Linked DNA regions of Homo sapiens: regions 1, 2, 3, 4 and 6 are each reported to be linked to region 5. The links are microRNA targets in miRTarBase. Many come from high-throughput screens and were not tested one by one. Region 5 holds a microRNA gene; each other region holds the end of a gene's coding sequence.
The links. The annotated mature microRNA hsa-miR-26a-5p reads UUCAAGUAAUCCAGGAUAGGCU and lies in region 5 at 3,781-3,802, opposite strand. An mRNA with a match to its seed (bases 2 to 7 or 8) in the 3' UTR can be bound and repressed. Matches are read on the target gene's strand: a 7mer-m8 pairs with bases 2 to 8, a 7mer-A1 pairs with bases 2 to 7 and ends in A, and an 8mer does both.

Region 1: miRTarBase lists HGF as a target of hsa-miR-26a-5p. Seed matches in the 3' UTR shown: 8mer at 1,182-1,189.
Region 2: miRTarBase lists UBE2A as a target of hsa-miR-26a-5p. The part of its 3' UTR that is shown has no 7-base or 8-base seed match.
Region 3: miRTarBase lists FAM177A1 as a target of hsa-miR-26a-5p. Seed matches in the 3' UTR shown: 8mer at 3,700-3,707, 7mer-m8 at 3,542-3,548 and 7mer-A1 at 3,407-3,413.
Region 4: the mRNA of RND2 is a reported target of hsa-miR-26a-5p. The part of its 3' UTR that is shown has no 7-base or 8-base seed match.
Region 6: miRTarBase lists RTF1 as a target of hsa-miR-26a-5p. Seed matches in the 3' UTR shown: 7mer-m8 at 3,373-3,379 and 8mer at 2,077-2,084.

What each region holds. Positions count from the first base shown.
Region 1 is chr7:81,698,433-81,703,521 of GRCh38, reverse strand. It overlaps HGF (hepatocyte growth factor), which reads left to right. Exons shown (of 18, transcript NM_000601.6): 18 at 765-4,512. The coding sequence ends at 941. Among named protein-coding and RNA genes, the nearest start is that of HGF, 69 kb to the left of the region's middle.
Region 2 is chrX:119,582,182-119,587,270 of GRCh38, forward strand. It overlaps UBE2A (ubiquitin conjugating enzyme E2 A), which reads left to right. Exons shown (of 6, transcript NM_003336.4): 5 at 407-495; 6 at 946-2,242. The coding sequence ends at 1,074. Among named protein-coding and RNA genes, the nearest start is that of UBE2A, 10 kb to the left of the region's middle.
Region 3 is chr14:35,080,841-35,085,840 of GRCh38, reverse strand. FAM177A1 (family with sequence similarity 177 member A1) reads right to left here. Exons shown (of 5, transcript NM_173607.5): 5 at 2,463-4,819. The coding sequence ends at 4,613. It overlaps PPP2R3C (protein phosphatase 2 regulatory subunit B''gamma), which reads left to right. Exons shown (of 13, transcript NM_017917.4): 13 at 63-369. The coding sequence ends at 251. It overlaps LOC101927178 (a long non-coding RNA gene), which reads right to left and starts at 4,760. Exons shown (of 5, transcript NR_110415.1): 1 at 4,282-4,760.
Region 4 is chr17:43,027,736-43,032,824 of GRCh38, forward strand. RND2 (Rho family GTPase 2) reads left to right here. Exons shown (of 5, transcript NM_005440.5): 4 at 326-460; 5 at 697-4,306. The coding sequence ends at 945. Among named protein-coding and RNA genes, the nearest start is that of RND2, 5.0 kb to the left of the region's middle.
Region 5 is chr3:37,968,126-37,973,214 of GRCh38, reverse strand. MIR26A1 (microRNA 26a-1) reads right to left here and starts at 3,811; the gene lies at 3,735-3,811. CTDSPL (CTD small phosphatase like) reads right to left here. Exons shown (of 8, transcript NM_001008392.2): 6 at 1,716-1,808. RefSeq lists enhancers at 3,016-3,577, 3,578-4,141.
Region 6 is chr15:41,479,679-41,484,767 of GRCh38, reverse strand. RTF1 (RTF1 homolog, Paf1/RNA polymerase II complex component) reads right to left here. Exons shown (of 18, transcript NM_015138.5): 17 at 4,443-4,554; 18 at 1,205-4,187. The coding sequence ends at 4,081. LOC105370790 (a long non-coding RNA gene) reads left to right here. Exons shown (of 3, transcript XR_932169.3): 2 at 89-273. Among named protein-coding and RNA genes, the nearest start is that of ITPKA, 12 kb to the left of the region's middle. RefSeq lists an enhancer at 1,045-1,094.

The sequences.
Region 1 (5,089 bases), not on the chromosome of region 5:
TATACACAACACAAATAAAGCTATCTGTTCATCTTTCCTCTATCTGATGATGCAACAGGCTTACCATATAAGAAATGCCATGAAATCACAGGACACGCTACAGAAAGGAGGGTATAAAATATAACTATAACTATATTAACTACTAATACCAGCAGTAACTGGAGGAATATTCCTTGCCTGGAAAAGCAATTTCAATTAACAGAATTATTTTGTTGACAACAAGTTTTTTATTTAACTTGTTAAGATCATGTAGGGCAGGATTGGGAGAGGCAAAAAAAAAAAGCTTTAGAAATAAGAAAAAATATAATGCAGTTTAATTGTTAAAACTATATGATTACAAGTTATTTTCTTTTATACTTGTATTTTTCTACATGTTCCAAATTTCCTATATTGAACATAAGAAGATCAAAATAAATATCAAATCTACCTTATTAAATAGGCACCGATGGTTATATGTTAGTCTGCATCCAACAAAGGCAAAGCACACTTAAAAGGATGGTTGACTCTTTTGGAAAAGGCAAGTCATTTTTAGGAGAATACCACACATAATAGAACACTTTAAACTTTGTACTTATCTCAGTCTTGGCTAATTCAGTAGAAAGTCAACAAATGTCTAGTACACTAATTTTTATATCTTCATATTTCAGTTGCAGTTATTCTCTTTTTCTGTATATATCTCTGAGATGCAAATCTATATATGATTATGTTAATGAGCTTTTTTTTAATTCCTAATAATACTTTGTTTTTGTATGTCTTACTCCTAGGGGGATTATGGTGGCCCACTTGTTTGTGAGCAACATAAAATGAGAATGGTTCTTGGTGTCATTGTTCCTGGTCGTGGATGTGCCATTCCAAATCGTCCTGGTATTTTTGTCCGAGTAGCATATTATGCAAAATGGATACACAAAATTATTTTAACATATAAGGTACCACAGTCATAGCTGAAGTAAGTGTGTCTGAAGCACCCACCAATACAACTGTCTTTTACATGAAGATTTCAGAGAATGTGGAATTTAAAATGTCACTTACAACAATCCTAAGACAACTACTGGAGAGTCATGTTTGTTGAAATTCTCATTAATGTTTATGGGTGTTTTCTGTTGTTTTGTTTGTCAGTGTTATTTTGTCAATGTTGAAGTGAATTAAGGTACATGCAAGTGTAATAACATATCTCCTGAAGATACTTGAATGGATTAAAAAAACACACAGGTATATTTGCTGGATGATAAAGATTTCATGGGAAAAAAAATCAATTAATCTGTCTAAGCTGCTTTCTGATGTTGGTTTCTTAATAATGAGTAAACCACAAATTAAATGTTATTTTAACCTCACCAAAACAATTTATACCTTGTGTCCCTAAATTGTAGCCCTATATTAAATTATATTACATTTCATATGCTATATGTTATAGTTCATTCATTTCTCTTCACCATGTATCCTGCAATACTGGTACACGAACACACTTTTTACAAAACCACATACCCATGTACACATGCCTAGGTACACATGTGCATGCACTACAGTTTAAATTATGGTGTACCTAATGTAACCCCTAAATATTTTAGAAGTATGTACCTATAGTTTTACCTCAAAAAAACCAGAAATCTCTAAAGACCAGTAGAAATATTAAAAAATGATGCAAGATCAAAATGATTAGCTAATTCTCCATACATAATCTGCAGATGATCTTCTTTGGTTGGCATTTCAGGTGTGGCCATCACCCAGAGTTAAATAACACCTAATCTAGGTGTTTACATGTATTCATTATCCTAGTTATTTCATGTAGTTTCTAATTCTTAAAGGAAAGAGGGTAATAGTTCTATTTGTGTAATTTGTTTCCTCCAAACTTAAGGCCACTTATTTACACAAGATATTTGTAGATCTATTTTCCTAAAGCATTTCTTAAGTGCTCAGATCAGTATCTAATTGAAGAAGTTTAAAAGTGTTTTGGTCATTAAAAATGTACTTAAATAGGTTAAATCTAAGCCTTGCTGCTGTGATTGGCTTCTAGCTCACTGCCTTTAAATTTTAAAAAATTTAAGAGGAAAATTTCCAAGTCTCCAAAGTTTTATAAATACCCTTCATCAAGTCATGCATTAAAGTATATATTGGAGAAAAAAATAAAAATACTTTTCTCAACCTGGAAGATTTTAGCCTAATAAAGCTTTTTTGAAGTAAAAGACAACTTGTAAAAGGAAAGAAACTAGTTTGTCTCAACTCTGTATTCATTTATTTTTTTTTTGAAGTAGAGTGGAATCTGTTGAATCAGATATTTTATCAAGATATGTTTATTTTTTCTTATTTCATTTTACAAAGTTCACTCCTAATGCCATATGTAACAGACATTTAAATTTTGTGTTCTGTATAACAGCCAAATTATCATATTTATCATTGTATTTGTCATGCTTAGCTAAAGATCATGTATTTGTTGAGAAATAGAATAACAAAAAGTAATAGGATAGGCTTTGAATTTTTGCAGAAATCTTCCTGTACAAAACACCTTTAAAAATAATTTTTTGAATGGTGTGAATCCAGTAGTCCCATTTCTCTGACTTAGTTTTCTTGAGTGATTTTTATCAAGGCCAAGTCCCCAAACAATTCCCTACCAGCTCTTTAGAGTACTGTTCAATCTGGACTAAAATGGTTTTAAGTTTATGGAGAGCTTAGTCCACAGAATATAGGGCGGCGAGTCCAGAAATGCTTATACAATTTTTTTTTCATAATAAGATATGTGCTGGCATCAAGAAACTTAAAGTGGAAGCAAAAAGACATCCAACTAGTTGCTGGTCTCTATCATCTTATCTGATGGTATTTCTATTTTCCTTATATAATACACCATTTTAGTAAGAACTCCTAGAAATTTCAAGAGCATATTGCCAAAATATAAAGTATATTTCATAGTTTCTTCTGGCTGAACCAGTGAAATTTTATTATTGCATATTAATGATATTTGTAAAACTTTTATAAAAATTGTCATAATTTTAAATACTCACATTTTAAAAATACTTCTTTAATGACTCTTCCTCTAAATTTCCTGGAAATACAGATAAAGATTAGCTAGATACAAGATACAGCTAAGTATTTAGACATTTTGAGGCTAGTATTTTTCATTTTATTAAAGGCTAAAAACAATACCACCAATAAATCATCAAACAAACCGTACAAAGTAATTCTCTCTTTGGGAGGCTCCTTTCGTGATAGAGGGACATGGGTGGAATTGACAATGAAACTTAGATGAACAAGGTCCATGTTATTTTAGGTGGTAGAACAGGGTAGAGTCATGTCATTATTTGCTGGTGGAAGACACTATTTACCAGGTGTTCTTTGCTGAATAAATCATTAAACATTTTTAAAAATCCAACAATCCACTTTATTTTGTGTCATTGACAAAAGGATCTTTTAAATCAGAAGGTTTCAATGCAATTTTTGGTTTGGCTGTTTGAATAATGGTTATGTACTGTTATAATTGTAGACATTTTCTCACGTCTACCAGGAATTGAAGTGTAAAACTAAAATATTTTTCATAATGCCTCTGCCGTGCAGAAGGAATGATAATCCTTTTGTATACTTCTTTAATTTTATTGTAAAATGTGTAATGACTTTTACCTATATGCTGTGGGCAGGTCCTCAGTAAAATCTATTGAGTCAATTTCTAGTATTAACAGGCTTTTGCTTGCTATCTAAGTGTTTCAAATTATGGGAAGTGTGAGACACTGGAAGGCAAGAAAATTAACAATAATGGCATGTGATAGCAAAATTGTATTTCACTTATTCCTGTGAATATTTCTTGTTGGTACCAATGGTACTGTACAAAGTGAATGTTATAGCCACAACATTCTCTTGAAAAGAACACTGTCAAGAAGTGGGAAATTGCTGTCAGGCATTTCATTGTTGTTTTTAAACTTTTTTAAAAGAAATACTGGTTTTGCAATATAGAGATCATGTGGTAAAGAATTTTAATAAGATCTTATACTAAAAAGCCTTAAATCAATTTATTGAGATTCAAAAAATACTATTATAATTAATTACATCCCATACATATAGGCAAACTCATTTAAAAAATAAAACTAATTTTGGTAAAAGTACATGGCCTTTGTTTTTAAAATACATAATTTTAAAATAAATCACTTGTCATGATAAAGTCCAAAAAGAAGTTATCATTCAACATTCAACTAAGGTTGGAGCTAAGAATTTACTAATACAAAAAAAGTTAAAATTTTTTGGACCATATATATCTTGACAGTGTAACTTTTAAGTAGGTTCATTTCCATTTGCACAGAAAGTTTCTGTCTTTAGGAAACTGAAAATGAAATACTGTGGATGCTATGACTGTTTGTCTTGTATGTAAATAGGAAATTAATAAGCTGCCTATTGAGTGGTATAGCTGTATGCTTACCCAAAAAAGGGAACACTGTGGTTATGACTTGTATTATAAACTTTCTGTAGTTAATAAAGTTGTTATTTTTATAACCATGATTATATTATTATTATTAATAAAATATTTTATCAAAATGCTTATTTTCTCTGTTATGATTATTTACATGTACATATTTATATCTGTCTTAGGGCCTAAATGCAGAAAATAGCAATGTTGACTTCACTGACAAAAATTACATACACGTTCTTGCAAAAACTATAATACAACTTGTTTATAGAACTAAGACAAAAATCATTATTTTATTCCAACTAATATCCACAGCAATATAGTTGGTCTTCAGTAAACCATTAATCTCTATGTACTTTAGTTTCTCCCACCGTAAAATGTAACTATTTGTTTATTCTTCATATTTGCTAGAATGGTGCTATGTTGTTATTTGCCAATATATACAAAATATTCCCATGAATTTTCACCTAATTTCCTTTCTCATGCCACTATATAATACAAAGGTGATTTTAAATTATTTAATGAATCACTTTGGGTATCTCTTTAAAGTGTGCATTCAGTTAAGAATAAATAAGAATCCAATGGATTCATTTAATTCAAATTGGAAGAACTAGTCCTCAATGATCTAAGCAAAGAGAGCTCTATAACACCACTGATTATTTCAAATTGTATTTTACTGCCTTTTTCCCCCAAAAGGTTGCTGTA
Region 2 (5,089 bases), not on the chromosome of region 5:
TCTTTATGCCAAAATGAAATCTTGTGAACTCTGAGTGATCTTTTGTTATTTCAGATAGGGGATACAGCCTACAAATTTGGTGGAATGAATTTCCCACATGTCTGTGGATAGCTAGGGACCCTGTTCAAAAATGTTTCTGATTTCCTGGATAATAGGGCAGCCTTTTCCAAAGGATGAACACTAAATATCTTCCAGTTTTATACTGATCACATCTGACATTCTCTGATCATCCTGATTATTTCACTAGTGGTGGTTATGACTTATCTTTTTAGGCAGTTAACTGGGAAGCAACATAGGAATCTTTAAACTTCAAAAGCAAAGTATTCTTGACTATTTTTGTTTTGTCTATAATGTTAAAACCTTAGTGGTCTTGTTACGTTTAATGTACCTACTTCTTTGTTCTTAGTCTATGCAGATGGTAGTATATGTCTGGACATACTTCAGAACCGTTGGAGTCCAACCTATGATGTGTCTTCCATTCTAACATCCATACAGGTGAATTTTTCCTTAATGTGACGAACTATAACTTTTAATATGTTTATATTAGCAATTGAATTGTTTTTGAAAGTCATAATGTAATAGATCTTTTTATTTTTGGTCAAAGCTTGTTTGTTTTATAGATGAAAAGTAGACCATTAAGACCCAAGTCAGCTGGGTACAGTCGCTCACACCTGTAACCTCAGCACTTTGGCAGGCCAAGGTGGGAGGATTGCTTGAGTTCAGGAGTTTGAGACCAGCCTGGGCAACATAGTGAGACTCTTCTCCCTTAAAAAAAAAAAAAGCCGCATATATTTTCCTAGCTACTAGCAGATTCACATAACTCTGGGTTTGTATGCTAAAGACAAGAAATGTAGCTGTACTTAGGACAATTCAATTGAGTGTCACTACCTTATAAAATAGTTGTTTTGCATTAAGGAACTGACATTTTAAAAATTGTCTCTTTAGTCTCTGTTGGATGAACCCAATCCCAATAGTCCAGCAAACAGCCAGGCTGCTCAGCTGTACCAGGAGAACAAACGGGAATATGAAAAGCGTGTTTCTGCAATAGTAGAACAAAGCTGGCGTGATTGTTGACCCCGGGTACAGTTTAAAGAAGCTGGCCATAAGAAAAATATATATTGATGTGTTTGTCACCTCCCTACTCCTGTCATTACATTTACTTTATTAAAAGCAAAATAACTGTTGTGCTGTTTCCATCTTCCTTGCCAAGTTTTCCTACCCCTTCTACCCTCTCCTTAAACATCAGAAAACACCCTCTATGAAATCAAATGTACTGTACCTGGGTTACTTGCAAAAATTACTAATGCTTCAGTTTTTCTGTTGTATTTCATTTCCAGTTTTCAGGCAGTTATTTTTATTATTGTACTTTAAGCTTTTAAGATGAATTGTTATACAAGAGGTGCTTATGCTTAGCTTGATGACCAGGATGTTATTTTTAACAAAATGATTGCTGAAGTGTTTCATCCTGGCTGGTCCTTCACTTGTGTTGGATTTAGAAGTGAATGTGTTTGGAATATGGCCTACAGAGAATAGAAACAAATCCATGTAAACAATTTTGAAGGAGGCATGGGAGCTAAAAATCCTGTGATACTAAGATCTCAGTCATATGAATTACAACGTAGTATTTACTGGCAAGAAGGAGAAAGTTGAAGGACTCAGCTAAAGGAGTACAGCAATTGTAGTAACTGACACATCCTCTCTTTGCAAGCTGCTGACTGGGCACACTCATGCCAAGTTTCAGAATTATTGGTCTTCTGGGTTTTTGCTTTTTAAAAGAGGTGTGGGAGCAGAGGAATGGAAACAATCGTGAGTTTTTGAGCTAGGGAAAGTTGGAGCTCCTTTAATCTTTTTAAAGGATCAGTGCTGCCCTAAGTGAATAAACTCAATTGTCCATCTTTATTTTAGAGTTTTAATGAATTCAAGGAAGGGAGCATAGCATATCTGTGGCAAACTATTTTCCACTCAAATCCTGAGTTATTGCTGCATGCTTTAATTTCTTCCCTTTCAGCATCTGAGAACCTTAAAGCCAATGTCTGCGATCTTTTTTTGGATATTTATACTTTTAGATATATAGTACCTTTAAGTAGCAGTATGGGACAAGGCTTGTAAATGTTTTGTCTAATGTTCTATTGTCACCTTTTATGCATTTATCACTTCCAAATCTAACTTTGCACAAGTAACCCATGTAAAAAAAAATGTACATTTTTCAAAAGTTGTAAATAAAAATAACCTTAAAATTTCATAGTCAAGGTATCTTTTTTTTTTTTTTTTTAGCTCAGTATAAACTTTTTGTATTGGTTTCTTATTGGGATCTCATATGTACTCATTTCCCCCCTCAAACATTAAGGTAAAAGCAAAAATACTCATTCTGGGAGGGGAAAAGACAAGACAGATACTTCTGGAGAGAACTTTTTTTTTCTTTCCAGTCATAAGTGGTAATGCTTTTTAAATATATTAACAGAATATGTTGCCGGGCACAGTGGTTCACGCCTGTAATCCCAGCACTTTGGGAGGCCAGGGCGGGCAGATCACGAGGTCAGAAGATCAACCATCCTGGCTAACACAGTGAAACCCTGTCTCTGCTAAAAATACAAAAAGAAATTAGCCAGGCGTGGTGGCATGCCCCTGTAGTCCCAGCTGCTTGGGAGGCTGAGGTAGGAGAATCGCTTGAACCAAGGAGGCGGAGGTTGCAGTGAGCCAAGATCGCGCTACTGCACTCCAGCCTGGTGACAGAGTGAGACTTCTTCCTCTCAAAAAAAAAAAAAAAATTTAACAGAATGTAAAATTATTAAATAAAGTTACCTCAGTATACATTATAATCAATCAAGGGAATGAGGTTATGGGGGGCGTGCGGGGGGCAGGGATAAACCAACCTAGGTATTTATCAGCACCCTCAGAGACCAAGATCTAACTTGTTGATCCTGACATACCACCTCTTTAAAAGCCCTAGCTCAAAAACAAACAGTACCAAACTTTTTTTTTTTTTTTTTTTTTTTTTTTGAGACGGAGTCTAGCTCTGTCGCCCAGACTGGAGTGCAGTGGTGCAATTTTGGCTCACTGCCACCTCTGCCTCCTGGGTTCAAACGATTCTCCTGCCTCAGCCTCCTGGGTAGCTGGGATTACAGGCGCTCGCCACCATGCCCAGCTAATTTTTGTATTTTTAGTAGAGATGGGGTTTCACTGTGTTGGCTAGGCTGGTCTTAAACTCCTCCTGACCTCATGATCCACCTGCCTCGGCCTCCCAAAGTGCTGGGATTACAAGCCTGAGCCACCGTGCCCGGCCTAGATGGTATTTTAAATCCTATGCAAAGTTTGGGAGTACAGATATCCTCAATCACTTTGATTAAACAAAACTACTTTCTTCTGAGGAGCAACCCATCTCATTTGAAAGAGGCAAGGACAATGACTTTGTAAAAACTACCACCTCTTGGTACTTGTTTGGTTGGGTGGATGGGGCTAAATGAAGTTAAGTCCTTATGACACATGTATCTCACTCATCTTTTAAGACATGGTACTTGAAGCCTCAGTATGGAGTACAATCTGTACTAATTACCACATTACTTGGATTGTTTCACCTAGGAGCAATGTCCTTCAATTTGCTTAATAGTTTCCCTCAAGTCCATTTCTGCTTCAAAGTAGAACCACATTAAATTTTTCTATTTGGTGGATTAGTTTTACATTAACTTTTTCATCCTGCTATGTGGCTGAGTGCTTTAAATTGACACTGTTAATCATACCTGAAACAATGTAAGGCGAGACTCAGAATGGTCAGGTTTAATAACTTTTTTCTTCTGTACACCTGAGAAACACTATACCCAATCTCTTTCACAGGATAATCCATTTAAAACCTTACAACAGAGCCAACAAGCTGACCTCCCAAAACAACATATGCATGGTCAAAGGCACCACAAACCATTCATTTGAACATTTCATGCTAATTGCCTCTTTCTCCCTTTAAAATTTTTAACACCACAGGCTACATGTATTGATAACAAAGTTAATGAAAACAAATTTGCAATGTCCCTTTTTCAAATGGCAGTCAGGTTTGAACTTTTCAATTCTGCACGTGCTGATGTGGGGAAGGAGGTATGATGAAGAACCAAAGCTGCAATTAGAATCCTTTATTTAGGACCCATCTCCAGCTTCAGGGGTTACTCATAGCAAAGAGAATGCATTGTATACTACTAAAAAAGAATCCCAACAAAGTGCATGATATTGCCATTCATTTTGCAATCAAAGGGGAGGAAAAAAATCCAAAAAGTAGATCTGTGATACTAAAAGCTAGATATAAAATGGAAAGAACAGTTAGTTCCTCAGTATAAAAAACACTTAATCCAAATAAAATTTGAAATTGCTCATGTACCTGTACAGATTGTATAGGAAGGTTACTGGGTTAAGAATGACTACATTTCAAAGAAAGGGAAAATACAGTAACCAACTGAAAGGGGACAAAATGGAACAAAATGGAACAACAGCAAGCTTGTCAGCAGCTCATTCATGCCAACGCCATTCTCAACATTATTTTATCCTCAAGCAAGTTAAGTGATTTTGCTCTAATTCTGTATCAATATCACAGATCCTAAGAAGTTAGGCAATCTGGCCCCTCAAATCCAGTAACCAAATTTGTATCTACTTGGTGCAATTATTTGGGAGCCTTCCTAACTGTAACTACCTTAATATTCTGTTCTGTTGGACTCACCTAGACAAACCAGATTATATTTAACAATCCCCTACCTTTCCCTGCCTCAAAATCATTTGGGGGAAGAAAGAAATGTAAAGAGAGTAATCAGTGAAGTTTTCATATCCCTTAATCCCAAAGCCACTCTTACTCAGAGAATTGAAAACAGGTTTTTTTCTAACTCACAAATTCAACCATAGCTTCTGAAGGTTGGCATGAACCTTGTAAATTAAAAACAAAACAAAATTGTAGCCCGGGTGTAGTGGCTCATGCCTGTAATCCCAGCACTTTGGGAGGCTGAGAAGGGTGGACTGCGTAACTCCAGGAGCTTGAGACCAGAATCCCATCTCTACTAAAAATACAAAAAATTAGCCAGGCCAGGCGGTGCGCACCTGAAGTCCCAGCTACTCG
Region 3 (5,000 bases), not on the chromosome of region 5:
ATCACTATGTGTGATAGAAATTAAGTGGATCAAATTTCATTGTATTTTTTTTTCTCTTGCAGGATGAAATCTTTGACATGGTAAAACCAAAGGATCCTTTGAAAATCTCTCTTCAGGATTTAATCAACAGTAATCAAGGAGACACAGTAACCACCATTCTAATCGATTTGAATGGCTTCTGGACTTACGAGAACAGAGAGGCTCTTGTTGCAAATGACAGTGAAAACTCTGCAGACCTTGATGATACATGATCTCTGAAAGACTAGACTGTCTTATATTATGAGATACTTGAATGCTGCATGTAAAGCCTTTAAAGCAAAATCCTCAGAAATGGTCTAAATAAAACACTTGATATGCCTAGAGAACACAGCAAATGTTTTGGTTACTGGAATTTTGGTTGCAATAGTTTAGAAGCAATAGGACCAAATATTGCTTGTTAGGAGGTGGGGTAAGTTCTGGTTCCTTTTAGTTCAAAGATGGGAAGTGTGATTTGCTGTAGGTAGATGATGTTCAGTTTAAATCTGTATAATCTTCAGAGATGAAGTTTCCATGGAATATTTCTGACAGTCATTTAGAATGTGAATATTTGACTGACAGTGCATATATATATACACACAACATGTGTGTGTGTGTGTGTCTATATATATAAAATCTCAAAGATGACAAACTTTCCCATTCATGAGTAGAGCCATTTTATTTCTGGGTTAGGATTAGGATTTTTTTTTAGGGGGGGTCAAGTGATTCTCCTGCCTCGGCCTCCTGAGTAGCTGGGATTATAGGCGCCTGCCAACACACCTGGCTAATTTTTGTATTTTAGCAGAGACAGGGTTTCACCATGTTGGCCAGGCTGGTCTCAAACTCCTGACCTCAAGTCATCTGCCCGCCTCGGCCTCCCAAAGTACTGGGATTACAGGTGTGAGGCACCACGCCCAGCCTTTTTGTTTTGCGGTTTTTTTTTTTTTTCTCTTGAGACAGTCTCCGTCTGTTGCCCAGGCTGGAGTGCAGTGGCATGATCTCTGCTCACTGCAGCCTCCACCTCCTAGCTTCAAGCGATTCTCCTGCCTCAGCCTCCTAAGCAGCTGGGACTTCAGGTGTGCACCACCATGCCTGGCTAATTTTTGTATTTTTAGTAGAGATGGGGGTCTTGCCATGTTGGCCAGGCTGGTCTCGAACTCCTGACCTCAGGTGATCCGCCTGCCTCGGCCTCCCAAAGTGCTGGGACTATAGCCACCATGATTCACAGTGATACGTGAGCCACGTGCCCAGCCTTGTTCTTTCTTTTAATTGGATGTTTTAATAAAATGTATTCAAACTAGTATTTTACTTTCATGAAAATCATTGGTATAAAAAATTTGTTGGCTGGGCACGGTGGCTTACGCCTGTAATCCCAGCACTTTGGGAGGCTGAGGTGGGCGGATCACGAGTTCAGGAGATTGAGACCATCCTGGCTAACACAGTGAAACCCCGTCTCTACTAAAAATACAAAAAATTAGCTGGGCGTGGTGGAGGGTGCCTGTAGTCCCAGCTACTCAGGAGGCTGAGGCAGGAGAATGGCGTGAACCCGGGAGGCGGAGCTTGCAGTGAGCCAAGATTGAGCCACTGCACTCCAGCCTGGCAACAGAGTGAGACTCCATCATCTCAAAAAAAAAAAAAAAAAAATTGTCTAGTTTTATTAACCAATACCAGAGTTACATTTTACAAAACTTAATTCCAAGCCCGGACAACATGGCAAAACCAAGTCTCTACAAAAAATAAATAAAAAACATTAGCTGGGCATGGTGGTGTGAGCCTGTAGTCCCAGATCCTTAGGAGGCTGACAGGGAAGGACTGCTTAAGCCCAGGAGGTCGAGGCTGGAGTGAGCCATGATTGCACTATTGCACTCCAGCCTGGGCAACACAGTAAGACCCTGTCCCAAACCAAAAAACAAACTTCATTTTGTTAAGGATTTTTGTTAAAGAATTTATGTTAATTCAGGATAAAGACTTCAGTTATACATTACATTTAGTTTTTATGAGATGCTGAAAGATTAGAAGAAGGTAAATATGAACTATGATCCAGAAGGAACTGGAATTCTGTTTTTTTTTTTTTTTTTGGAGACGAGTCTTGCTGTGTCGCCCAGGCTGGAGTACAATGGTGCAAACTCCATTCACTGCAACCTCCGCCTCCCAGGCTCAAGTGACTCTCCTGCCTCAGCCTCCCGAGCAGCTAGGATTACAAGCACCTGCTACCATGCCCGGCTAATTTTTGTATTTTTAGTAGAAATCCATCTCTACTAATTCACCATGTTGGCCAGGTTGGTCTCGGACTCCTGACCTAGTGATCCGCCCACCTTGGCCTCCCAAAGTGCTGGGACTACAGGCGTGGGCCACCGTGCCCAGCTGGAACTGGAATTCTTAAAAGGACTGAAAAGGAGATAGGAAAAAGTGAGTGAAAGAGGCTTAAAGTAAGACAAACCATTGAATACATTTATGGGAAATTTTATAGTTTGCATAAACAAAGTATAAACTTAAGGCACAGTGAATAACTATATTGATAAACATAAACTAGCCACTATTGGACAAGTAGCAAAAGTAAAATTCAAGAAACAAAACCTTCATAAGTCACTACTTCCTTTTGTTACAATCATAAAATTTTCTGGGTAAACTCTAGATACTAGTACCTCTAGGGAGACAGGATTCAGAAGATCACTTTTAGACACACCTATCTTCACTTGATAACCAAATAAATATCTGTGAGTGAGAGGTACTATCTCGAATGAAGTTAAAAACAAATTAGAAGGAAAAGGTCAGGTTAGCATGTTTTAGAACTATTGGTAAACTATAATTCATGGGACATTATATAATCAAAAGATTAATATTTTAAGCACTAAGTTATAAAGGGTTTACACCCATGAATAAAAAGATTACCATCACTTACTATGAACCACCATTCCATGAATCCATGTAGCTGAACACTCCTAATGAAAAGTTTAATTATCCTTCAACCTGTAGTTGAAGAACTCAGTTCATGTTCATTGACAGATTTCCATTACAGACCCACTATATTGATGTTACTTTCTTTGACACTATATTTTATATAGATATATTAAAATTGAAAACTTAATGCTGTTTAGAAGGCTATTAATATAACTATTAATTTCTGAAAGCTTTGAGTTTCTGAAAAGGCTTTTAAGATCAAAATTTCTGAAACACTCCACACATTCTTCCTCACCCACATTTAATTATAAATCAATGTTATACTGATAAAAGGTTCTATACACACATTTAGAGATATATGTGTGTGTGTGTGTGTCTGTGTGTGTGTATATATATATACTTTTTTCCCCCCAAGATGGAGTCTCACTCTGTCGCCCAGGCTGGAGTGCAGTGGTGCAATCTTGGCTCACTGCAACCTCCACCTCCCTGGTTCAAGTGATTCTCCTGCCTCAGCCTCCCGAGCAGCTGGGATTACAGACGTGCACCACCACGCCTGGCTAATTTTTGTATTTTTGTAGAGACGGGGTTTCACTACGTTGGCCAGGCTGGTCTCAAACTCCTGACCTCAAGTAATCTGCCCACTTCAGCCTCCCAAAGTGCTGGGATTACAGGTGTGAGCACCGTACCTGGCCATATTTAGGAATATTTTCAAAATTAGCTTCACAATATATACATTTGTAAGGTTTACAAATAACCAAGTAGGTAGAGGAGTGGCCAACCAGATTCAAGTAAACTGTCCAGTCTTCACTGTTGCTACTTCTAAATGATGAATGACGGGTAATTTCATTAGGCTATCATTGCACCTTATACAATATCTAATTGCTCCTGATGGATTAAATCTATACCTGTCCCACTATCCCCCAATCCCCTCCAAACCACTTTTCTATAGGATTAACGCTGAACCGATAACATAACCAGGATGCCACATGGATATTCACTAGGTATTAACATTAATAAATCTATTCTATAAGTAGTGTTTTAATATTATGTTCAAAGCTAGTTATTTGAGTCCTGAAAAAGAATACAAGATTAAGTAAGTGGCTTGCATTAAAAAATGGAAGCCTATCTTAATATCTGGTGTTATAAATACAGATTCTTACATAAAACAGTTATTCTCAATGAAAGAAAATTCAAAGTGCTTCCATCTTGCTCCTTTTATTATATGGTGAAGCATCCTTAGTGTGAAATTAATGGTTAGATATATAAATGCATGGCATAACATGAGAAAATCTAGGAGAAAATATCCTCATTTTAATCTAAGACTATGGAATTATCAATTCCAATTAGACTTAATCAGCAACTTACCTTTTTCAAAAAAAGCAAATGCACAAATAGGCTTGATAATTTAACTCTTCTTAACTATTAAGGCTCTAGGATGTCCTTAACTTTTTTAAAAGATCATTTTAAAACCAAAGCACTAATTTCTATACACAGTAAAAACAGTACAAATATCTGAATTTCAGATCTGGCTTTTGCTAGATAGATCCTAAAAATGAAGAAAACATTTTCCCTTTCCAGATACTTTAATAATTTAAAATATAAATAATTGTATTAAGTCCCACTGAATAAAGAATGTGAAAGTTTTTGTATTAAAAAAAAAAAACTTAAGAGTTTGAAGCTTGATAGTCATTTCATTTTATGGTGGGACAGAGACTGGATTTTGCTTGCTTTCCATAATTACTTCACTGTCTCCCTCCATTTCAAAATTGACATTCACAAATGAGCTGGATATCACTGTCTCTGGTTGATCTGTCTGAACAATGGAATCAGTCTGCAATTTATTCTGTTGATATTGTTTTTCTGCTTCTTCAGACATCCTGTTTTCTTCTTCTTCTTCTTCTTCCTAAAAAAAAGGAGCAATATCAAGAATAGTTGAAATACGAAAGTCCAAAAGGTATATAGTGCTGTTTTCCCCACTGTCAGCTTATGTTTAAAAAAAAAAAAAAAAAAAAGTGTCATGTTCAAATCAGTTTGGTCTAATTAAGACATACTTTCCCTTCTCCTGCTCTCTAATTGAAATAACC
Region 4 (5,089 bases), not on the chromosome of region 5:
GTGGGATAAATTTGTTCCCAGGAGAGAGTATGGGAAAGGCGAGTGGGAATGGGAAGTTTCCAGGCTGGCAGACCCTTCATAGCCACTGAGGGAGAAGAGTCCACAGGCCCACGCCAGCCCTCTCCTCCCCGCTGCTTCTCTCTCACCCCATCCTGCTCTCAAACCAAGCCTAGCATTCTCACCTCCTTCCTCATGTGGGAGAGTCCTGAGGGATACATGGTTTCTGCGTGCTTGAGGAAGAGAGGGCACACTGCTGGCATGGCACAAAGGCTCACGCTGTGCCTCCCTCCACCCCTCCACAATTCTCTTTTCTTCTCCTACATAGTGGCAAGGAGAGACTCAAGAGTTCTGCCCCAATGCCAAGGTTGTGCTGGTTGGCTGTAAACTGGACATGCGGACTGACCTGGCCACACTGAGGGAGCTGTCCAAGCAGAGGCTTATCCCTGTTACACATGAGCAGGTGGGACCCTTGACGTCTGACCTCATCCCAGCCTAGACCTGTCACCTCTGCCCCTTCAGTCTCTGATTTGAAAACACCTTACCTGGCTCATCCTTTGTTCTGGTCTGTGACCTCTGACCTGATCCCTTGACTGCCCCCAGCCTTGACATTCAACCCCAGCCCACAGCCTCCATGCCCCTTTCTAAGCTGCAGGCTAAGACCTATAACTTTCTCCCATGCACTCCTTCCTTTTCCAGGGCACTGTGCTGGCCAAGCAGGTGGGGGCTGTGTCCTATGTTGAGTGCTCCTCCCGGTCCTCTGAGCGCAGCGTCAGGGATGTCTTCCATGTGGCTACAGTGGCCTCCCTTGGCCGTGGCCATAGGCAGCTGCGCCGAACTGACTCACGCCGGGGAATGCAGCGATCCGCTCAGCTGTCAGGACGGCCAGACCGGGGGAATGAGGGCGAGATACACAAGGATCGAGCCAAAAGCTGCAACCTCATGTGAGGGGCTAGGAGAGGGCAGAGTGTGAAGAGGGGTGGTGAGGGACACAATTGTTCCCCTGCCTGCGCCCAGGCTTCCTGACCTCCTGATCCTGGCTGGGAAGTTAGGGCAGGCAGAGCGAGCAATTCTGGGCAGGGGAGCTGGAGGGCAGAAGGGTATCATCGTTTCTCATCTCCTCCTCCCTCCTCTTCTCCAGTGGATGTTGAGGGAGCTAACAGGGCTGGCATCTGGGGCATGAACTGGGATGGGGCAGGTGGGCGTTAGGGAAGCTGGTATCAAATGGTGACCTTGGTGGAGTCTCCTATGTGAAGAGTACCCTCCCTCTCCACCCCCAGTCCCCATATCCTGGTTCTGGCCCAAGGAAAATGTCCATTCTATGACCTTCTCTTTTCCTCTCCTCTCACTTCTGCAGCTATTCTCACACATCTAACCTCTAGGCAACATGCACTAAATTCAAAAGCAAGGAGAAGCCCTTGCCCCCCATCAGTCCACCAGCCCTAGAACCTCCCTTGCCTCAACAGTCACCTAATAAAGCCCACCTCCATGGAAAACGGCTGTGGCTTTAGTTTTGTTGCTTTTTAAAAAAATCAATCTACCAATCTTTAGCAGTAAGAGGGAAAGTTAGACCTCAGCTGGGGAACTTTCCTGTCCATGTCCACAGATAGAGCAGAGGACAAAGCCATAGGTTGGATCAGAAGTGTCCTTTTAGGAGTCAGAGTTGGGAGAAGGAGACATCCTGGGACTGTTCATCCTAGTTAATGAAGTGGGCAATTCTCAGGCCATTAGGGGGTTTTAGAGCAGACCGACATATAATTAGTCAGCATTTCTCAGCCCAGCCAGGCCTGCTGCTAGTGTGGGAGGGGTCCTGCTCACCATCTGTACCCCTGGCTTGGAGCCTGCTGGTACCCTGGGGGTTGTGGGGATAAGGAGGCATCAGGCCGGGCGCGCTGGCTCACGCCTGTAATCCCAGCACTTTGGGAGGCCGAGGTGGGCGGATCACAAGTTCAGGAGATCGAGACCATCCTGGCTAACACGGTGAAACCCCATCTCTACTAAAAATACAAAAAATTAGCCAGGCGCGGTGGCAGTGCCTGTAGTCCCAGCTGCTCGGGAGGCTGAGGCAGGAGAATGGTGTGAACCCGGGTGAACCTGGGAGGCGGAGCTTGCAGTGAGCCGAGATTGCGCCACTGCATTCTAGCCTGGATGACAGAGCAAGACTCTGTCTCCAAAAAAAAAAAAAAAAAAAAAAAAGAAGGCATCAAAAGCCTCCACATCACAGAAGCTACCCCTGTACAGCGTGAAGTTTCCTAAGAGGTCAGTAGTTTGATTCTGGGGTCTCCTTAGAGGCTCAGGCCAGGGACCTTTCTCTCCTCCCATGCTGAGTTTCATGATGGCTTTCAGGGGAGCATCAGCTGTTAGAGTCACCCCTACCCTGTCCCTTAAAGGAAAGACGGTGGAGAGGACGGCTGAGCGCCTGTTGTCAGGAAAGACAGTACTGGTCTGTTTTCTCGGGAGTCTGGTTTCAGATTGTCCTGTATTCCCTTCCTGGCTCTGGTCCCACTGGCCTCTTTTCGGTGACATTCTCCCCCAGGAACCATCCCTGGCCCTTCCCTCCCCCAGCCCTAGCCAGTTCTCCCAGACACACTGGAAGAGAACACTGACCTTACCCAACTATCTGCTGGGATCCCACCCAAATTTATAGCCCATTCCTCCCTCATTCATTCATTCAGCAAGTATGTACTGAACACCAACTGTGTGGCATACACTGGCTTGGGAGATTGCAAGGACCAGTCTCTAAGCTTTTGGAGGCCAGCCCAGTGTGGAAGAGAGGTACCTCAGGTGTGAGGGTGCCATGGCTGAGGGATATTTGTACATGTATGGGATGCTATGGGAGCTCCTTGCAGCCTGAGAAGCCAGTCCTGTGAGCCAGGTCCTGAGGGTTGAAGAGGAGTTTTCCGGGCAGGGAAGGGGTAGGAAAGGCACTCTGGGCAGAGGGTACAGCATGTGTAAACACGTGGAGATGAGAATGAGCATAGCACTGTTGGGGCTCCCATGGCAGGGAGAATAGAAGACAAGGCTAGGAAGGTACACTGAGGCTACTGCAGGGTCCACAGAGGAATCAGAATTTCATTCTGAGGATGAATGAAATCATCCTCAGAGGATGAAGCCACCAGGAATTTCAGGCAGAGAGTGAAGTGATCAGAGTTGTTTTTTGGATAGATGGTTATCTGGATGTGGTGTTGGAGCTGGGAGATTTGGCTCTGAGGTGTGTCATTTAAAATAATAGCTTCTCGGCAGTGGCTCACACCTATAATCCCAGCCAAGATTCCTCCTTTGGGAGGCCAAGCTGGGAGGATCGCTTGAGGCCAGGAGTTAGAGACTGCAGTGAGCTATGATCATGCCATTGTCTTCCAGCCTGAGTGTCAGAGTGAGACCCTGTCTCTAAAAAAAATTAAAAAATAAAAAATAAAAAATAGCTTCTCCTTTCCCTTATGCCAGGTTCCAGTCTTGAGAGGAAAGGAATCCCTACCCACCACTCCCTGGATCATCAGATATCCCTATCCCAACCTCTCCTATGGGACTAGTTCATCTCAGCCAGTCTCAAAGATTCTAGGATAACTTCAATGGCATTTGAAATTATCTAAGTGTGCTTGGATAACCACCCCCTCAAACTGAGACCTGGTTAGGGACTGACTCAAAGACCCTGAGTCCTCGGCTAAGGGTACAGGAGAGGGCAGGGGCTCCAGGCCCAGCTAGGTGGATCTCCATCTGTCTCTGAGGACTGACCCTTTCCCCACAAGGACCTGCCATAAAAATCGACTTGCGATTTTTAGCTGAGTGGCTTCTCTTTTCCACTTTGGACTTCTCAGTGTATAGCAGGTTCAAGCCTGCAACCACCAAAGTGCAGAGTGTGGAGTGTTTGTGCCCCCTCTTTCCTCCAACCTCCATATCCTGCCATGTGAGCTCAGGGAATGCAAATGCATTTAAATATCCATCTAAAGCAAACATAATTAGAAAAATCAATCAGCTGGAGGACCCCCCAAAGTTTAATACATTTTCAATACCACCAGGAATGGATTTTTGGTCCCTTTCTGCAGGTCTGGGTTGCCAGACGTTTTATTTCTGGGGAGGAGGGCTCTGGGCTGAGGAGCTCAGTGGGTGGGAGGAGGGAATGGGACTGTTGCTGATCCTCAAAGGCCTCTGTAGGATGGAGGGAGGGGACCTTACTCCCTTCCCCACCCCAGATGCAGGAGTCACCCAGCTTCCTTCTCTGCGCTGTTTCCTTCACAAATTAGACATTGGTTTGGGAAACAATGTAGCCTCGTTAAACATTTAATGAAATAAACAAATAATCACACTGTGATGGCTGCCAGAGTTTCTGTGTTTTTTTTTTTTTTTTTTTTTTTTTTTTGAGACGGAGTTTCACTCTGTCATTCAGGCTGGAGTGCAGTGGCACCATCTCGGCTCACTGCAACCTCTGCCTCCTGGGTTCAAGCGATTCTCCTGCCTCAGTCTCCTGAGTAGCTGGGACTACAGGCGCGCGCCACCATGCACAGCTAATTTTAGTGTTTTTTTTTTTTTTGAGACGGAGTTTCACTCTTATTGCCCAGGCTGGAGTGCACTGGCGCGATCTCGGCTCACGGCAACCTCACCTCCTGGGTTCAAGTGATTCTCCTGCCTCAGCTTCCTGAAGTAGCTGGGATTACAGCCATGTGCCACCATGCCCAGCTAATTTTGTATTTTTAGTAGAGATGGGGTTTCTCCATGTTGGTCAGGCTAGTCTTGAACTCCCGACCTAACGTGATCCACCCACCTCGGCCTCCCAAAGTGCTGGGATTACAGGCATGAGCCACCGTGCCCAGCCATTTTTGTATTTTTAGTAGAGACAGGGTTTCACCATGTTGGCCAGGATGGTCTCCATCTCTTGACCTCATGATCCGCCTGCTTCAGTCTCCCAAAGTGCTGGGATTACAGGCGTGAGCCACCATGCCTGACCTAATTTTTGTATTTTTAGTAGAGATGGGGTTTCACCATGTTGGCCAGGCTGGTCTCGAACTCCTGACCTCAGGTGATCCACCCACCTTGGCCTCCCAAAGTGTTGGGATTACAGGCAGGAGCCACCGCGCCCAGACTAGTGGTTTTTTTT
Region 5 (5,089 bases):
CACTCATCTGAAAGATTACCCACTGGGGAAGACTCTATTTTCCCTGAGGCCTTGTTCTCTTTTTGAAATGCAAAAATAAGGACGAGGATTTTGAATCCCACTCCACTGGTTCATGCTCTAAGGCCTGGTGATAAGTCTGGCAGCATTTGTGCAAGTGGGGCTCTCCCGCCCCTCAATCATCACAGAGATGGACCCAACCAGCAATGGCCAGGCCAGCAAAGCAGTGGAACATGCAGAGGAAGAGAAGGGAGTATGGGCATCAGGGCACCGTCCAGAAGCAGGACATGGCGGAGGAAGCTACTGTGTGATGTCCTGGAGACAGGCAAATGGTTAACCTGGGCCCCAGAAAACTCATCTTTGGGACCACTCAGGGTCCCTGAGATGCCCATGGAGACAACTGTGGTGCTACCAACAAATGGATGGTGTCAGCCCCATCAGAGTCAGAGTTTGGGAAATGGTCAAGGCAAAGATCTCCTGGGAGAAGCAAGGCCTACCCTGCCTGCCCCACACAGCACAGGCACCCTGCCACACCTGTGAAGGGGGAGACTAAACCATACTGGGAGGCTTGGGAACCTGCTAGTTTCCTTAAACAGTGGAGAGGACAAAGAAACCATTCTATTTGATCAGAGCCAGTGTAGATTTTAGGTCAGATTCATATCAAGCTTTAGGATCAAGATATGTCTGAATGATTTTATCATCACCAATAAATATATGTATATATATTTTTGAGACGGAGTCACTGTCGCCCAGGGTGGAGTGCAGTGGCATGATCTTGGCTCACTGCAACCTCTGCCTTCTGGGTTCAAGCAATTCTCGTGCCTCAGCCTCCCGAGTAGCTGGGATTACAGATGCCCGCCACCATGCCCAGTTAATTTTTGTATTTTGAGACGGGATTTCACCATGTTGGCCAGGTTGGTCTTGAACTCCTGACCTCAGGTGATACGCCCTCCTTGGCCTCCCAAAGTGTTGGGATTACAGGCATGAGCAACCGCGCCCGGCCTATCATCATCAACAAATAATTGTAACACAAAATAATGAACATCAGGAGTGCTTATCATGTGACAATGCCCAGCACAGTATGTGGAACACAGCAAGTGCTCAATGAATACTTGCTGTATGTGAGCCAGACACTGTGCTAAGTCCTTTACATATGTTATTTCATGTGATCTAGCCACAAGGTAGCTGGAATTATCCCCAATTTATAGAAGAAACTGACATGAGAAGTGAAGTAACTTGCCTCAGATCATACAGCTCATTAGGGCAGTTGGAACTCTCATTCAGCCCAAGCATGTGGGTGAGTGTCCAACACTTATCTCTCACTTGCTTCTCCCTCAAATCTGTGAAAGCAAAACCCAAGGACACAGGGGCCTCTAGCAGTTGGCTGACAGTCAATGGTTGAGGGGTACACCATCCTTTGTCCATTACACTGGACCTGTTTGTGATTCTCTGGACTGTGGACACCCAGCTTCAGGTGGCTGCACACAGCAACTTCATGGAGCATTTGTTCTAAGTGCTCCCTGTCACCATGGTAACCCAGAAGGCTTTCAGACTGGCACCATGCACATGGCCTGCATCCATCCCATCTGGGGTGGGAACCTGTCACCATAGAAATGGCTTCCCCCACCAAAACAAAGGGCTGCTTGACAGATTGGGGGTAGGGGTGGAGGGGCTGGGAGTACCAGGCTGGGAGTGTGGGGCTGGGAAGCAGGACTCACCTTGGCCAAGCTGGCAGTAAAGAGCACACATTCAAAAAGCTGCCCCATCCTCTGGAGGAACTCGTCCACATGTGGCCGCTTCAGCACATACACCTGCAATGGCAGGAGACAGCAGGCTGGTCAGATGTGGCAGTTGCTGGGGATGGCCTGGGGCCCAAATGCCCACTGTAGGAAGAATTGCTACAAAGGTTCCTGCCTCCCTCCCCCAGGTCTATGCATAGCAGGCAGAGGCCTAGACTGTATGAGGGGCTATGGAGTCAGACGTGGCACTCCTCAGACAGGGCTCCAGGTCTGAGTTCACTGCAGACGCCCCTCCTAAGGGAAAAAGAGAAGCTGACCATGGTGTGAGGGTCTTGGGGATATTCAGGGCCAGCAAATGGAAGGGTTGTACCATGTTTGTGTGTAATGACTCATTCATTTCACGTGTGTTTCTTGGCACCTGCTGAGGGTCAGGACCTGTGTGGGCACGGGCCACGGTCTGGGTGTTGTCCTTTCAGAGGTCCAGGCCCAGCATATTGCCCAGCAGGTCTGGGATTGCTCCGGCTGCCACCTTCTGTTCTGGATGGACATCCCCCTTACTAGGAAGGTCTGGGGTTGAAGCACAGGCCCAGCAAAGCTGCAAGAAGGGGCTTCCTTGTCAGCTTGGGAAGCTGTCTATGACACCATAAAGGGTGGGCTTGGTATGTTTCAGGGGATGTGAAACCATCGCTATTCCTGGACCCCAGACATAATCCATCAGGAGGGGTCTCTGAGCAGAGGGGTGCAAAGAGTAGCCTTTTCTAGAATGGCTGGGCTCTGTGCACCCTTTTGACCAGGCCAGGCCAGGGGGTAGCAGTGAGGAGGCCAGGCTTCAGACCATACATAGGTTCTTGATTAGGGAGCCTGAATGAATCTGGGGAAACAAGGGAGATGGGAGAGAAGGCAAAGCTGGTGAGAGAAGACAGAGGAAGTGGGAGGAGGGAAGAACTAATTCAAACTTGAATAAATTCCGTTTGAAATTAGCCACTTCACTAAAATAAATCAAACTCTTTAAAATTCAATTCAGCATGTTTACTGAGCCTCAGCTCTGAGCTCAGCCTGATGTAGTTGCAAAGATGAATAAAACACAGGCCTTGCCCTTGAAGAGCTCATACTCTAGAACAGACATAGGCAAAAACATATAAAAATAAACATGGCATAATGAAAGTTGTAGTAGAGGGATAAATTAAGGACAATTAACTCCCCTCACAAGGGGAGGGGATCATAGAAGATAACATTTGGCCTGGACCTTGAAGGAGTTCACCAGGCCAATAAGGTTGAGAAGAAGTGGGCTTTCAGGCAGAGGAAACAGTAGAGGGTGAGACCCGAGGCCTGAGAATACTTGAGAAGCTAGAGAGTAGCCAGGCTGTGTGCCCAGCCATCAGAGGTAGTGAGAGAAGCCGGAGCAGCAGGGTCTGGGAGAGGAAGTGGCTGAAGATGAAGTGAGAGGCAGGTCACAGTGGGCACATTAGGGCCTTGAATGGCAGATGGAGCAGGTGAGAATGGCAGGAGGAGCAGCAGAGGGGAGATGAGGGCTCTGCACCACATGCTGGGTGTGCTGCTGGCCGAGGAATTCTATACAGAACCAAGTCATTTTCAAGGTGCCAGAAGCAGGAGCTCAGGAGGGCCAGGACTCAGTGGGAAATTCATGGGTGACTGAAAGAAGGAGGTGGACATGGATTTGTGGCTGAGGGTGGAGCGAGGGGCTGGAGGAACAGGATGTCGTAGCACGGGTGCCAACACAGCTCTGAGGAGCTGGGAGGCTGGGGTAGGGCTGAGGGCAGGGCCTGTGGCTGCAACAGCTGCAGACTCCCACTTTGCCCACAAGACTCCTCGTTGCCAGCAAACGGGTGTGGCCTGTAGTCCTCAGTCACCCTGGGAGTCCTGCTTGGAAAGCAAGCTTTGCTACATGCAAAGGGCAGGAGACTGATTTGTGAACTCTGGTGTTGGTGCCTCTGGCAGAGAGGGGGGTCCTGAGCCCGGATGCCGGCGTCCAGGCCCGCGTCCCCGTGCAAGTAACCAAGAATAGGCCCATTGGGACCTGCACAGCCTATCCTGGATTACTTGAACGAGGCCACGGCCTTCGCCAGGGCCTTGGTCCTCCTGCTCTTGGCTCCTGTGGCTTCATTCCCTCGGGAGAGAATTTCTGACCCCAGCCCTGGGACCTTGTGATATCACAGCACAGCCAGGATGGAGGGTGGGGGAGCTCCTGCAAGAATGGGTCAGCAGTGGGCAGGCCAGTCATGCTTACAGTCACGTGGTACAAAGGATTAATTTCTCTCCTAATTCTTGCTATGCCATTGGGCAGCCTCTCCTTTGTCTCATCATGAGCACTATGTAACACAAGCCAAGATGATAAATGCAGAAGCCTTAACTGCTTCTCAGATGCTGAGTTAATTCAGTTGATGCTTTTGCAAATGTTAAATGCCCAAGTGCCTGCCGTTTTGGCTCTGTGATGGCTTTTAAAAGCATGAAGTGTGGAAACACTAGGAAAAAAGCTGCCTCTCCCCGGGACTGTTTCCTGGCAGGATGTCCTGGAGAATAAGCAAGAAAGCAAGGACATGGGAGGGAAGGGACTTGCGTATCAGGAAAAGAGCCCTGGGCCAGGAGGCAGGAGACTGGAATTTTCATTTTAATTCTTCCCATCGTATGACCTTTAACCAACCCCTTCCCTGGCGGAGCCTCAGTTTCTCCATCTAGACAATGAGGCAGCTGGACCAGCTGATTCCCAAGCTTTCTCCAGTTCTGACACCTTGCACTCAAGAACCAAAGACTACTGACATTGCTAAGAAAAGACATCCCGTTGTGGCTCAAGTACCAGGAAAGTCTCCTTCCTGGGATATCAGGCCAGATACGCTCCCTTTAAGACCTTGGACTTGACAAGGAAGATGGTTAGATCATCCCTGTGGAAAATCTGACAAAAGCCCCCCAGCTTCAACCTCTAAAGCTAGTTTTCCTACAACATTCCCAATTTGTTCATAAATGAAGTTATTTCCGGAAGAGCTTTATGCAGATAAGGAAAAAAAATCAGAAGCAACGAAGACGCATGCCAACTGACTACGGCATCTTTATTCATAGCAGCCTGCGGATCCGAAAACTCACACCCTTCCCCCTTTTTCTTTTGGGGTGGGTATTTGCTAAAGATTCTCTGGAGAAAACGATGCAGGAATGATAAGATCAGTCTGGAGCAGCTGGCATTGAAAATGGACACTTTTTCCCGAGAGTCCACCATAAGTGGGTGACTTGTGGCATTTTCCTGTTGCCTGCTAGGAGAGTAGCCGAAAGCAATTACACAAGGAAGTTAATTAGACCATCAAGCTAGGCCAGTGGGGGATACGGAAACTTCTGAAATTCAA
Region 6 (5,089 bases), not on the chromosome of region 5:
TGAAGGAAGATCTCCCTTCTGGAAAAACGTGGCCAGGGAGATGAAGTTGACCAACCCAGCACCCTTCTTCTCTCCACTTGCACCCCAGGTGTTCTTTCTGGATTCTCAGAGATAGGTAGCAAGTGGCTGCCCCACAGCACCCAAATCCTGGAAGATAAGCAAGCTATGTTGTCATCTGCCCAGAACCCCTGCTCTCTAGGTCCCACTGCTCCCACCAGTTAGGTAGTGGGAGTGCTGGGGAGTTGGAGAAAACCTCATTGGACGCACTTGCAGGTAAGCAACCTCTCCACCACCAGAAGCGGTCTTGGACGTGGCTCTTATCACTGTGATTGCCATCCCTTGCCTTCTTAAAGGGTGTGGAAGATCCAGGATCTTCTTGCTTCCTAGCTAAAATGTGTTCAGAAAGGTTGGAGACACAGCCTCAGGCACTGGGGATGGGGAGGCCTATAGACCTCCCCAGCATGAGGGGTGCGTGGATGAAGGAAGATCAGTGTTTCCTCCATAGCCACACTCATGGCCCTTGGGCACCCCCTTCAAACTCATGATAGCCAGAAAAAAGAAGAGCAAAGAAACTGTGCCTAGGCCAATTTAAAGTTGAAAGGAGCTGAGCACAGTGGCTCATGCCTGCAATCCCAGCATTTTGGGAGGCTGAGGCGGGAGGATCACTCGAGGCCAGGAGTTCAAGACCAGCCTGGGCAACATAGCAATATTCCGTCTCAACAGAAAATTTAAAAATTAGCTGGGTGTGATGGTGCATGACTGTAGTCCCAGCTACTTGGAATGGTGAGGTGGGAGGATCACTTGAGCCCGGGAGGTTGAGGCTGCAGTGAGCTGTGATTACACCACCGCACTCCAGCCTAGACAGCAGAGACCCCAGCTAAAAAAAAAAAGGTTGAAAGGCCCAGATTCTCACTAGGGTTAGGCAGTACATCAGGGGTCTACTTAGCTCTGTTAAAACTTATTGGTCTCTTACCAAGACAGGAAGTAAACCAGGACAACTGGAGGTTTCCTTGGGTCTAGGCAACTACCCTACCAGAGAGGCTTCCGGGGAACCAGGCTGCTAAAGAGTTGACGATGGCCACTTTCACTTTTGTGGGCACAGGGCTAAGAGAAGAAGGAAAAGGAGCAAGAGAGGTTCTCTTGGACTTTCAAAACATGGCTTTAGGAGTTGCCACTCAGGATGCAATCCTTAGACTCAATCTGATCCCTTTGTTAAAATGGCATAACATTTATTTACAATATTGGTACAGTTTGAGTGGCAAGTCAGGACTTCACAAAAGCAAAAACATTCTTTTTGAAGGGAGTGGCAGGCAGTAGACTTTCCCTACACCTGCCAGAAGCAAGACAGACAAACAGACCTATAAACATTATGAACTAGGCAGATGGACACTGGCCTTTTTGCTTCTTGGAAGGAACTGAAAAAATGCATAAAAACAACCTTGGGTGCTGCACCCTTCAACACTGAAACCACACTGTGGAGGGAGGAGGGGCCCAATGAGGGAATTCCCCAGCACAAGAAATAGTGTGAACCACCAAGAAATCCTAGTTGGTAGGACAAAGCCAGTGTCTTAATGCCTGACCAAGATCTTGGTTCAGAGGCACTGCCTCAGCTGAGATTGGAGACAAGTCCTTAGTCTTGGTCCCAATCACTACAGAGGCTACTCGGGTGGAAAGATACCCTTCGGTCTTCTTTGGTTGGCTTTTCTCCCTGCTGTGTGCATTGGCATCTCGTGGGGGTTTCAGCGGCTACATGTGGGGAGGTGGTGGCAAAGTGGCTACAGTGTGATGCAGTTTTAATAAAAATTTTATTACACAGCCATAATGTAATCAACACTTCTCCAAATCCAAATGATACTAAATACAGATCTACATGGTGGATCAGAATGACTCCAGCGAATTATCTGGATTCTATAATTTTATGTTTTTTAAAACCAGAAATCAAAAAAAAAAGTCCAAGTTCATCATGATAGGAGAGGTCCCAGCAGCTCCAGGACTCTGCTGAAGTCCAGGCAATGTTAACAGTCTGTGATTCCACATTTACACAATAGTCTATAAAGAGTTTCGGTCAATGGACTATTCAAGTATATATGATTTTAACGAGTCCATCACCACTCCTTTGCCCAAGTGAACTGTGTCACAGCTACCACAAAGCTGTGTTACAGTCATATTTAGCAATTTTACAATCATAATACTCCTTTAAAACCATCCATTGCTGCTTTAAAAATAAAAAAAAAGTAAACTAAGTTAAAGCGACACTGAGGCTCTACTAAACCCAGAAGTTACCAAGTTCATTTTTATGTTTAAATACAACTTACAAGTCCATGATTTCCCATCGTCCCCCTTCCTTGTACGAAAGCAGGGTGAGGAAGTACAAAGCAGAGCTTTTAGATTAGTCTCTCGTGGAGATCGGAGCTCTCAGCTGTTCCTTTAGCTTAGCTCTTGGTATATATAGTCAGCTGTACTTTGTTCTGAAAGATTTGTTAAATGCCACTTTTATTTACACTTGGAGCTTTACACCTGAGAGTGATTATCAAGCAGTCAGTTTATCTCTTTTCAAACATTTCATAAAGACATACACACACCTCTGCTGGCTTCGCCCTAGCTGCACAATATATATGCTGACCATATATATGTATACACACACACAAAACTGCACATGCTTGAAACATTTGCAACCTAAATCTTTTTGAGGCGGAGTCTCACTCTGTCACCCAGACTGGAGTGCAGTGGCACGATCTTGGCTCACCACAACCTCCGCCTCCCAGGTTCAAGGGATTCTCCTGTCTCAGCCCCCCGAGTAGCTGGGATTACAGGCACGCACCACCATGCCCGGCTAAGTTTTGTAGTTTTAGTAGAGATGGGGTTTCACCGTGTTAGTCAGATTGGTCTTGAACTCCTGACCTCAGGTGATCCACCCGCCTAGGCCTCCCAAAGTGCTGGGATTACAGGCGTGAGCTACTGCACCCGGCGTAACCTAAATCTTTTTGTGTTTGCTCTCCACATTCATATTCAGAAATTTCTCTTAAAAACAAAATGTAGTTCTTGCCAAAGCAGCAAAACAGAATCACCAGGAAGAGGCTGGTATACTGGGTGAGAAAAAGAAGTTCTACGTTCAGCCAAGAAGCTGTGGGCTGTACCCATGGGAAGAGCAAGACATTCACTGCCCTCCCTGGTACCTGGCCATGGGCTTCCCTCCCACACCTGCCAGGACACAGCCTGCAGGTCAGGGGGCTAAACTGGGGAGTTTTCTCCAAAGTTGGGAAAGGATGGGAAGAGTAGGTGGGAATGGGGAAGTTACACAGCTACAGCAGTCAGGCCTGTTTAGTAAGAAGAATCACATTTAATGAGTTTCTTTCTTGCAGTTTCAGATGCTCAAGTACAGCTGAAAAAAATCTGAAACAGCTATAGACCCATGACAGACTGATACAAAGAGTACTGCATTTTAAAAAAATGATAAAAAAATCCACACACTTACACACACACACATACACACTCTCGCTCTCAAATTAGACCCCCCCCCCCCACAAATGTACACTTTTTGGAAACTAAACTGGTTTTGAAACCCCTTCTTCCAAAAAGAAGGGCAGAAGAGAAAGATGAAGAGAGGAAAGAGGATCGCAGGTGCCCAATCCCCGCTCCCCCCACAAGGTCACGTGCCGAATGTTCAATGGGTGGGCCAAGGCAGTCTGTAGAGGAGACCGCCTGGTGCTGCTGCTATTGCCCCAGGGGCTCCAGCAAGATTCCCAGCTCCATGGTAATACTGAATGCGTGCAGAGTGGCCAATGAACTGCGCGGTTAAAAAAACAAAAGGCAAACACAAATCTAAAGACATGGATAAAGCCCAAGAGAGCCCAGGCCCACACTGGGTGGGGCCCTGGGGGAGGGGAGGCTGGTGGGAGATGGTGTGCAGACAAAGGAGGTCTATACAGCAAATGGTTTATATTACAGATGACTGGCAGTTTAGAGTCTCTTCCCAGTTCAACAGCTGCTCCAGCCCAAAGAGGCTAAATCAAAGGAAAGGAGGAAAGGTGGGACGCTGCGATGGGGCATGCAGGGTCAGAAGCAGCAGGCTGGGTGTGCTCAAATAAGCCCTCGTCGTTTTTTGTAGTCTTCCAAGTTCAGAGATCTCCTTGGAGCCCCATCCTTGGCTGGCGGAGCCTTGGAGGTGATGGCTAAAGCCTTTGACTCTGTGGGAAAGAAGAGCAAGTTGGCAGCTGAGGTCCCACAAAGTCCTCTTAGTCCTGTGCTACACTCCTGCAGGCAGCCTCCTGACTGTGGCCCTGTTCCCTCTCACCATACCCACAGCCTGTCTTGGCCTGGCCTGTGGATGCTGATGAGCCAGCATTCCCCTTTCTTCCCTAAAAGTGGGCTTCCTTGTTGCCCCAGAAAACCATGGATCCATCTGGTTCTCAGCCCTCACCACCCGCCCCACCCTCACATACCTGAGCTGGGAACTTGTAAGTCAATCTTCACATCAAAATCGTGTACTTTGAACAGATCTTCTGAGAGGTCACTGGCTGACTTAGAATTCAAATCTTTATCTTTGCCTTGACCCTGGAATGTGAAGAGGAAAGCTAATGGTAAGAGCATAAATGCAAGTGGATTTCAAGCAGCAGCAGCCACTAACGGTACGAAGCTCTTATTTGAGTTCATTAGATTTTCCTACTAAGGCCCCTTTCTGATTCCTTCTCTCAGAGGGAGGCCACAGACAAAGAGCTTTCTCTCCTGAAGGCTACAAGCACAGAGAAGAGGGCAGGCTTGTGTCTGTGGTATGAGTGTAGAAAGGGTGGGCTTAAGCAACGGGTCACTTCCTGACCTAAGATTTCAGAAATCCTGAGACCAGTTAGACTACAACAGGAAAAGACTTAACTTGGACAGAAAACTGCTTTTTTTTTTTTTTTTTGAGGTGGGAGTCTCACTCTTGTCACCTAGGCTGGAGTACAACGGTGCAATCTTGGCTCACTGCAACCTCCCCCTCCCAGGTTCACGCGATTTTCCTGCCTCAGCCTCCTCAGTAGCTGGAGTTATCGGAACCCGCCACCATGCCCAGCTATTTTTTTTCTATTTTTAGTAGAGACGGGGTTCTACC